2 linked regions of the Homo sapiens genome follow. The protein of the gene in region 1 purifies or fractionates together with the protein of each later gene. This does not show direct contact. Each region holds a gene or a part of one and is shown on either strand. Other genes may lie near its edges.

Region 1 (3,831 bases):
GAAGCTGCATTTTCCTTACCCAAGCATCTTGCAGCCAGTGCCACAATGTAAATATTTTGGCTAACAGACTTGTCACTACTAGGTCAAGACCCTAAGAAGATGGCAAGTCTCTTTCACACTCTTTTTCTTTTCCACCAGCTCAGTATAGATGACAACAAGGTTCTAGAGCCTAGTGAAGCCAAAAGGTGAAAGGAGCCTGGGTCCTTGACTTCTTTTATCACATGAAAAAAGGATACCCATTGTTTTAGAATACTCATTTTGAATTATTATTTGAGCAAGAAATAAAAAGTATATTGTATTTCAGTTATTATGTGATGGAGGCTTTCTGTTAAAGCAGTCTAGTCAACATTGTGGCAGGCTCAAGTACTGACATTTATAAGGGGAAAGATTTATGGGTATATAGAAGGTCTATACTTTATACATTCAAATTATTGATAGAGTAGTAAATTTAGTAAAGAGATGGGTAATTTGAACATTATGATTAATAAGCTTGACTTAATTAAAATATACAGAAGTCTGCATAGAAAAACTAGAGGAACACATTTTTCTCAAGCACAAATAAAACATGTACAAAAAGTGACTATACATTAGGCTATAAAAAAAGTCTGAACAAAATTTTAAAGAATTACATCACAAAGGACATAGTTTCAGACTATAATGGAAATAATTAGAAATTAGTCTAAAAAAAGACAATTACTCAAAACTGAACAGAAATTTCAAATTAAAATATATAAGTCAGAGCTTCCAGGTGGCTACCACTGAACACTTAGAGGTTGTTGGAGAGCAGCATGCTCATGGAGGGCATGGAAGCTCTCTAGCCTTTCCCCATATCTCACCTTATGCACCTCTTCCTCTGTATCCTTTGTGATATCCTTTATAATTCAAAAACCTAGAGGAAATGGATAAATTCTTGAACACATACAACCTACCACACTGAACCAAAAAGAAACAGAAGAACCTGAACAGACGAATAACAAGTAAGGAGATTGAATCAGTAATAAAAAGTCTCCCCTGAAACAAAAGTCCAGAACCATATGGCTTTACCACCAAATTCTATGACCCTTTAAATATAAATTAATACCAATTCTTCTCAAACTATTCCAAAAAATTGATGCGGCAGGAATTCTTCTTAGCTCAATTTTATGAGGCCCACATAACCTTAATACCAAAACCAGACAATAACAAGACAGCATAAAGAAACCCACAGGCCAATATTCCTGATGAAAATAGGTGCAAAAATCCTCAACAAAATACTAACAAACCCAATTCAACAACACATCAAAAAGATAATGTGGCATGATCAAGTGGGATTTATCATACGAATGCAAGAATGGCTCAATGTACACAAATCAATAAATGTGATACTTCACATCAACAGAATCAGGGACAAAACCATACGGTAATCTCAGTAGATACAGAAAAAGCATTTGATAAAATTCAACACCACTTTATGATAAAAACTTTCAATAAATTATGTATGAAAGGAAAGCACCTCCACATAATAAAGATCATATATGACAAACCCACAGCTAACAATATACTTAACGGTGAAAAGCTGAAAACTTTTCCTCTAAGAACTGAAACAAGATATAGAGGAAAGGCTAGGGAGCCTCCATGCCCCTCCATGAGCATGCTGCTCACTTTACCCACTCTTATTCAACGTAGTACTGGAAGTCCTAGTTAGATCAATCATGAAAGAGAAAACAATAAAGGACATCAAAATTGGAAAAGAGGAAGTCACATTTACCCTGTTTGCAGACAAGCTCTTATGTAGAGAAAAACTTAGACTCTACCAAGAAACCTGTAGAACTCATAAAGAAATTCAGTAAAGTTACAGGATACAAAATAAACATACAAGTCAGTGGTGTTTCTATGCACAATGAACTAGTTAAAAAAAGAGACCAAGAGGGCAATCCCATTTATAACAGCTACAAATAAATACCTAGGAATAAATTTAACCAAGGAGATAAAAGACTTCTACATTGAAAACTACAAAACACTGATAAAAGAAATTGAAGAGGATACAAACAAATGGAAAAACTTCCCATGCTCATGGATGGAAGGAGTTAATATTGTTAAAATTACCATACTACCCTAAACCATCTACAGAGTCAATGCAATCCCTATTAAAATACCAGTGACATTCTTCACAGTAATATAAAATAAATCCTAAAATATGTATGGAACCACAAACATCCTAGAATAGCCAAAGCAATCCTTAACAAAAAGAACAAAGCTGGAGGGAACAGGTTTCAAGACTTCTAAATATACTACCAAGCTCTAGTAACCAAAATAGCATAGCACTGGCATAAAAACAGACACGTAGACTAATGGAATAGAATAGAGAACTTAGGGCCAGGTGCAGTGGCTCATGCCTATAATCCCAGCACTTTGGGAGACCGAGGCAGGTGGATCACATGAGGTCAGGTGTTCGAGATCAGCCTGGCCAACATAGCAAAACCCCATCTCTACTAAAAGTACAAAAATTAGACGAACATGGTGGTGCATACCTGTAGTCCCAGCTACTCTACTCTGGAGGCTGAGGCAGGAGAATCACTTGAACCTGGGAGGCAGAGGTTGCAGTGAGCCAAGATTGTGCCACTGCACTCCAGCCTGGGCAACAAGAGCAAGACTCTGTCTCAAAAAAAAAAAAAAAAAAAAAAAAAAGAATAGAGAACCTAGAAATAAATCCATGCGTCGATAGCCAACTGCTTTTTGACAAAGATGCCAAGAACATTCACTGGGGAAAGGATAGTCTCTTCAGTAAATGGTGCTAGGAAAACTGGATATCCATATGCAGAATAATGAAATTAGACCTTCGCCTCTCACCCTATACAAAAATCAGCTAAAAATGGATTAAAGATCTAAAGGTAAAACCTGAAACTGTAAAACTACTAGAAGAAAACACAGGGGAAATACTTCAGGACATTTTCATGATCTTACAAAAAGATTTTTAATATAAGATCTCACAACCATGGGCAACAAAAGCAAAAATAGGTAAATTGGATTATATCAAACTAAAAAGCTGCTGCACAGCAAAGGAAACAATCGACACATTGAAAAGACAATCTACAGAATGAGAGAAAATATTTTCAAAGTATTTGATGTGGTTTGGCTCTGTGTCTCCACCCAAATCTCATCTTGAACTCTAATCCCCATGTGTGGAGTGAGGGACCTGGCAGGAGGTGATTGGATCGTAAGGGCAGTTTCCCCCATGCTGTTCTTATGATAGCGAGGGAGTTGTCATGAGATATGATTGTTTAAAAGGTGCAGTTTCCCCTGCATGAGCTCTCTCTCCTGCCACCATGTAGGACGTGCCTTGCTTCCCCTTCGCCTTCTGACATGATTTAAAGTCTCCTGAGGCCTCCCCAGCCATGTGGAACTGTGAGTAAATTAAACCTCTTTTGTTTATAAATTACCCAGTCTCAGGTAGTATCTTCATAGCAATCTGAGAACAGACTAATACATTATTCATTTGACAGGGGATTAATATCCAGAATATACAAGAAACTCAAACATCTCAACAGCAAAAACACAAACAATCCAATTTAAAAAATGGGCAAATGATCTGAACAGACAATTCACAAAAGAAGACATACAAATGACCAACAAATATATGAAAAAAATGACTTCATTGTTCTCTCAACATCACTAATCATCGGGGAAATGCAAGTGAGAACTATAATGAGGTATCACCTCACTCCAGTCAGGATCGCTACAATAACAACAAAATGACAAAAAATAACAAGTGCTGTTGACCTTGTGGAGGAAGGGGAACTGTTATACACTGTTGGTGGGAATATAAATTAGTACAGTCACTATGGAGAATGG
Region 2 (3,931 bases), on another chromosome or scaffold:
ACGACAGGCTTTTATAATCCTTCTGAGTTCTCTTTGACATCAAGCCCCACGTTGTTCCCCAGTCTCAATATTCTGTTGGAGGCAGCCACGTAACAATTAGAGTTGAAACCTGCCCCACGTTGTTCCCCAGTCTCAATATACTGTTGGAGGCAGCCACGTAACAATTAGAGTTGAAACCTGCCCCACGTTGTTCCCCAGTCTCAATATACTGTTGGAGGCAGCCACATAACAATTAGAGTTGAAACCTGCCCCACGTTGTTCCCCAGTCTCAATATTCTGTTGGAGGCAGCCACGTAACAATTAGAGTTGAAACCTGCCCCACATTGTTCCCCAGTCTCAATATTCTGTTGGAGGCAGCCACGTAACAATTAGAGTTGAAACCTGCCCCACTTTGTTCCCCAGTCTCAATATTCTGTTGGAGGCAGCCACGTAACAATTAGAGTTGAAACCTGCCCCACATTGTTCCCCAGTCTCAATATTCTGTTGGAGGCAGCCACTTAACAATTAGAGTTGAAACCTGTCTGCCATCCTTTGTCTCAATGTTTGAGGATGTATGCAGTGTTTTTGGCAGCGATTATAGGAATGCAGTTGTTTATTTGGCCTCAGCAGTTTATTTATGGCTGCAATTAATATCCCTGATCATGGGCTTTTAAACCTAAAATAGTTCAGATCCTCCCTTGTTCCTCTTAATGTCTAAAAGCTTTGATTCTGTAATAAGAATAAAGTGTTGGAGTTGAATAAATTAGTTACACCCTTTGTAAGCTTTAAAAACATGAAATTTAAGGCTTACTCATGTTGCTTGTATTGATACTCATATAGTTCAATTTAGTAGGTTAATTTTTGTGTTAGGTATATCTCTTCTGGAACTGATAATTTGTAATCTTAGACTATTTTTTTTTTAAGATAAGTAACTTAGAGTAAGAAATCCAGCTGGGAACAGTGGCTCATGCCTGTAATCCCAGCATTTTGGGAGGCCGAGGCGGCTGGATCACTTGAGGTCAGGAGTTTGAGACCAGCCTGGCTAACATGGAGAAACCCTGTCTCTACTAAAAATACAAAAAATTAGCCAGGCATGGTGGCAGGTGCCACACCCAGCTACTTGGGAGGCTGAGGCAGTAGAATCGCTTGAACCCGGGAGGCGGAGGTTGCAGTGAGCCAAGATCGCATGACTGCACACTAGCCCGGGCAACAGAGTGAGACTGTCTCAAAAGAAAAAAAAAAAAAATCCATTCACAGAACTGCTAAAGAAAAACTAGAGGAATATTTTGCTCATTTAGCTTTAAAACTCATTATTAGAGGTGTGTATTTTACAGTTTTGTAAATATAGATTATGCTTTATAATACACATAAAGCAAGTATATATAACATGCATATAGTAAATAAATTTTAAAATATTGACTATTCCCCAGTTAAGCCTATACTTCTTAAGGAAGACTACTGATGTCATTTTAAGCATGTTTCAAAATTCAAGTTTTATTTTTGATCAATAAGGTTTTTTTTTTTTTTTAACATGCTCAGCACTATAGGAATAAGAGGACAGTGGAGATTTGTAGGCTAATAAGATCGCTTTTAAACTTTGTGGTCCATGTAAAATTATTAGTTGGAGAATGTGTAATTAGAGAACTATAAGATAAAGAGATAACCTTTAGAATTTGAATGTACTAAAATTGTACACAGCTTGGAATATTAAAATCTTAAGGATATGCAATGTTAAAACTGCTAGAGTATTTTTCCTTCGTGCTTGCTATGCTTCTCTATGGGAAGAGGAATTTTATTTTGGAATTATTTCTAAGTTGAACAGACCAGAATTAATTGTGAAAACATGATCTGTTGGTTTATAATTGGACACGCATTTGGAGATACTGGCTCATCATACTACCTAGGAGCAAAATCTCTGAAGTTTGAATCCCTGCTCTTCCACTTGTTAGCTGTGTCATCTTGAGCAAGTAACATCCTTCAGAGCTCAAATTTCTTCTTGTGTAAAAATAGGAACATCTATCTCTTAGACTTGTTCTGAAGATGCGCCTTACTTTGTATCTGGAACAAGGATAAGTATCTTCTGTATCCTGCTCTCAGCTGTCACTGCTTTTTAGGCCATCATTACTTGCTTGGCATACTGCAGTGCCTCCTAATTGTCTCTTTGTTTCTGCTCTGGCCTCTCTCATGTATCCCCCACATGGCCGCTGGTTCTCTTTTCTTTATGGGGTCTTTGTAATGTAATCTCTCCTCCTCTAGCCTCCCCATGCCCCTCATTTCTCCAGTGTGCTGTGCTGTATTACCAGGTAGCAGAACGTACCCTAATATCGCATGCCTTCCTCTGACCTAACTTTTCCATCTGACCAATTCCTACTTATCTACAAGGCTCAGTCCAAGGAAAACTGATACCGGGAATAATCATAACAATTGTGCACGCCTCCTCAGCTGCTATGACACCTTGCCATTATTTCATCCGGATACTTATCAAGCTACTTGTAATGATCTGTAGTCTTATTTGGACTACTAGATTGTGAGCTGTAATACAAGTATTTTGTCTCTAGTATTAAGCCAGTTTATTTGGTTTCTATCATTAAATACAATGTTGAAAAAATTCTCAGGGTCCAAGGGGAGATGCTTGGGTTGAGTCAGAGATAAAGTAGGAATATGCAGTTGAGGAAGGTAAGGAAGATAATTTAGCTGAAGTAAAGGAAAAGTGCATAGTGTGTTCATAGAGTGGGAGTTAAGTGTAAGAGACATTCTAGGGAAGTGAAGGAGAAGCTGAAAGAGCAAGTAGAGACGGTAAGGTGAAGCTCCTCTTGCCATGTGAAAGAGATCAAACTTTCTCCTTAATTTATGGGAGGAGCGAGCATAGAGAAGTCTGTGATGTCTCACAAGGTTCTCACTTTTACAATTGAATATAGAAGTAGCTCTTAGGAGAAGCAGAACGTTCAGAGGGGAAGATGAATATGGTTTTGGGTACATTGCCTTAAATTGCATTTTTGGTATTTGGGTGGCGATGTCTAGTAAGTAAAAAGCCAGGAATGTGATTTTAGAGCTTAGAGCTAGAAGCAAGGAACTAGGAGTTGTTTAGATGATGAAAACTGAAATATGTATATGAATGGGAATTTTTAGAATATAAAGGGAGAGAATGAAACTAAGGAGCAAATGTTAGGGAATCCTAAGAAATATTAAAGAATTGGGAAAAGAGGAACCTGGAAGGTAGAGTAGTAAACAGGAAAGGGAGGAAAAACAGGAGGTGGTAATAAAGTAGTGTTAATGAATCCAAGAGGGAGCAGTCACCATCTTCAAATGTGATATTGAAATTAGCTGGGATGTCCAGTTGTTTAATCCATTAAATTGTGGAAACAGTCTTTCTAGTGCTTAATTATAGGAATCATTGATCATATTAATAAACTTTCAGTTGAAGCATCAGCAGATAATTATTCCAAAACCCTCTGGCAAAGAAATGTAGATGCTTTTATAGTCTACCATTGAACACAGTTTTACATGACACTTGGCAAAACTTGGAGATGGATGGCACTATTTTGTAAGAGAATATGAAACACTGCTTTGAAGTTGTCATTAAAGGATCTTATCAGGTGCTTTTTCTCTTGTATTTTGTTTATAAATTTTGTCCTATCTGTCATTCTAGTACTGTTTTTCTTGATTGCTTTTGTTCTCTTAAAAGTTTCTAATTTCACATCACAAAGATGATTCCTGTTAGAGTCCTGAATGGGTCATTGAGTTGCCTTAGTAATAAGGGTTCTAATTTTGGGGGGCATTATCAAATATATTAATTGTTAATACCTGCTCTTCTGGGGTTTCCAGTAAAAAGGAACTCCTTCATTAGATCCCTGTAATCTCCCTGTGACAAAGTATAGTAGAGATAGTATCATAGTTTCATTTCTCTGGTCATATAATTATCTCAAAGGAATTGACACATTGACAGTATTAA

What was found.
Region 2: the proteins of WFDC9 (region 1) and TXNL1 purify together in Homo sapiens (affinity purification with mass spectrometry; one large-scale study listed by BioGRID and IntAct). This does not show direct contact.

What each region holds. Positions count from the first base shown.
Region 1 is NC_000020.11:45,624,644-45,628,474, reverse strand, and holds part of WFDC9 (protein WFDC9 precursor), read left to right. Parts: intron 1-3,831.
Region 2 is NC_000018.10:56,596,856-56,600,786, reverse strand, and holds the end of TXNL1 (thioredoxin-like protein 1), read left to right. Parts: 3' UTR 1-3,578; downstream 3,579-3,931. UniProt on the Homo sapiens protein: Active thioredoxin with a redox potential of about -250 mV.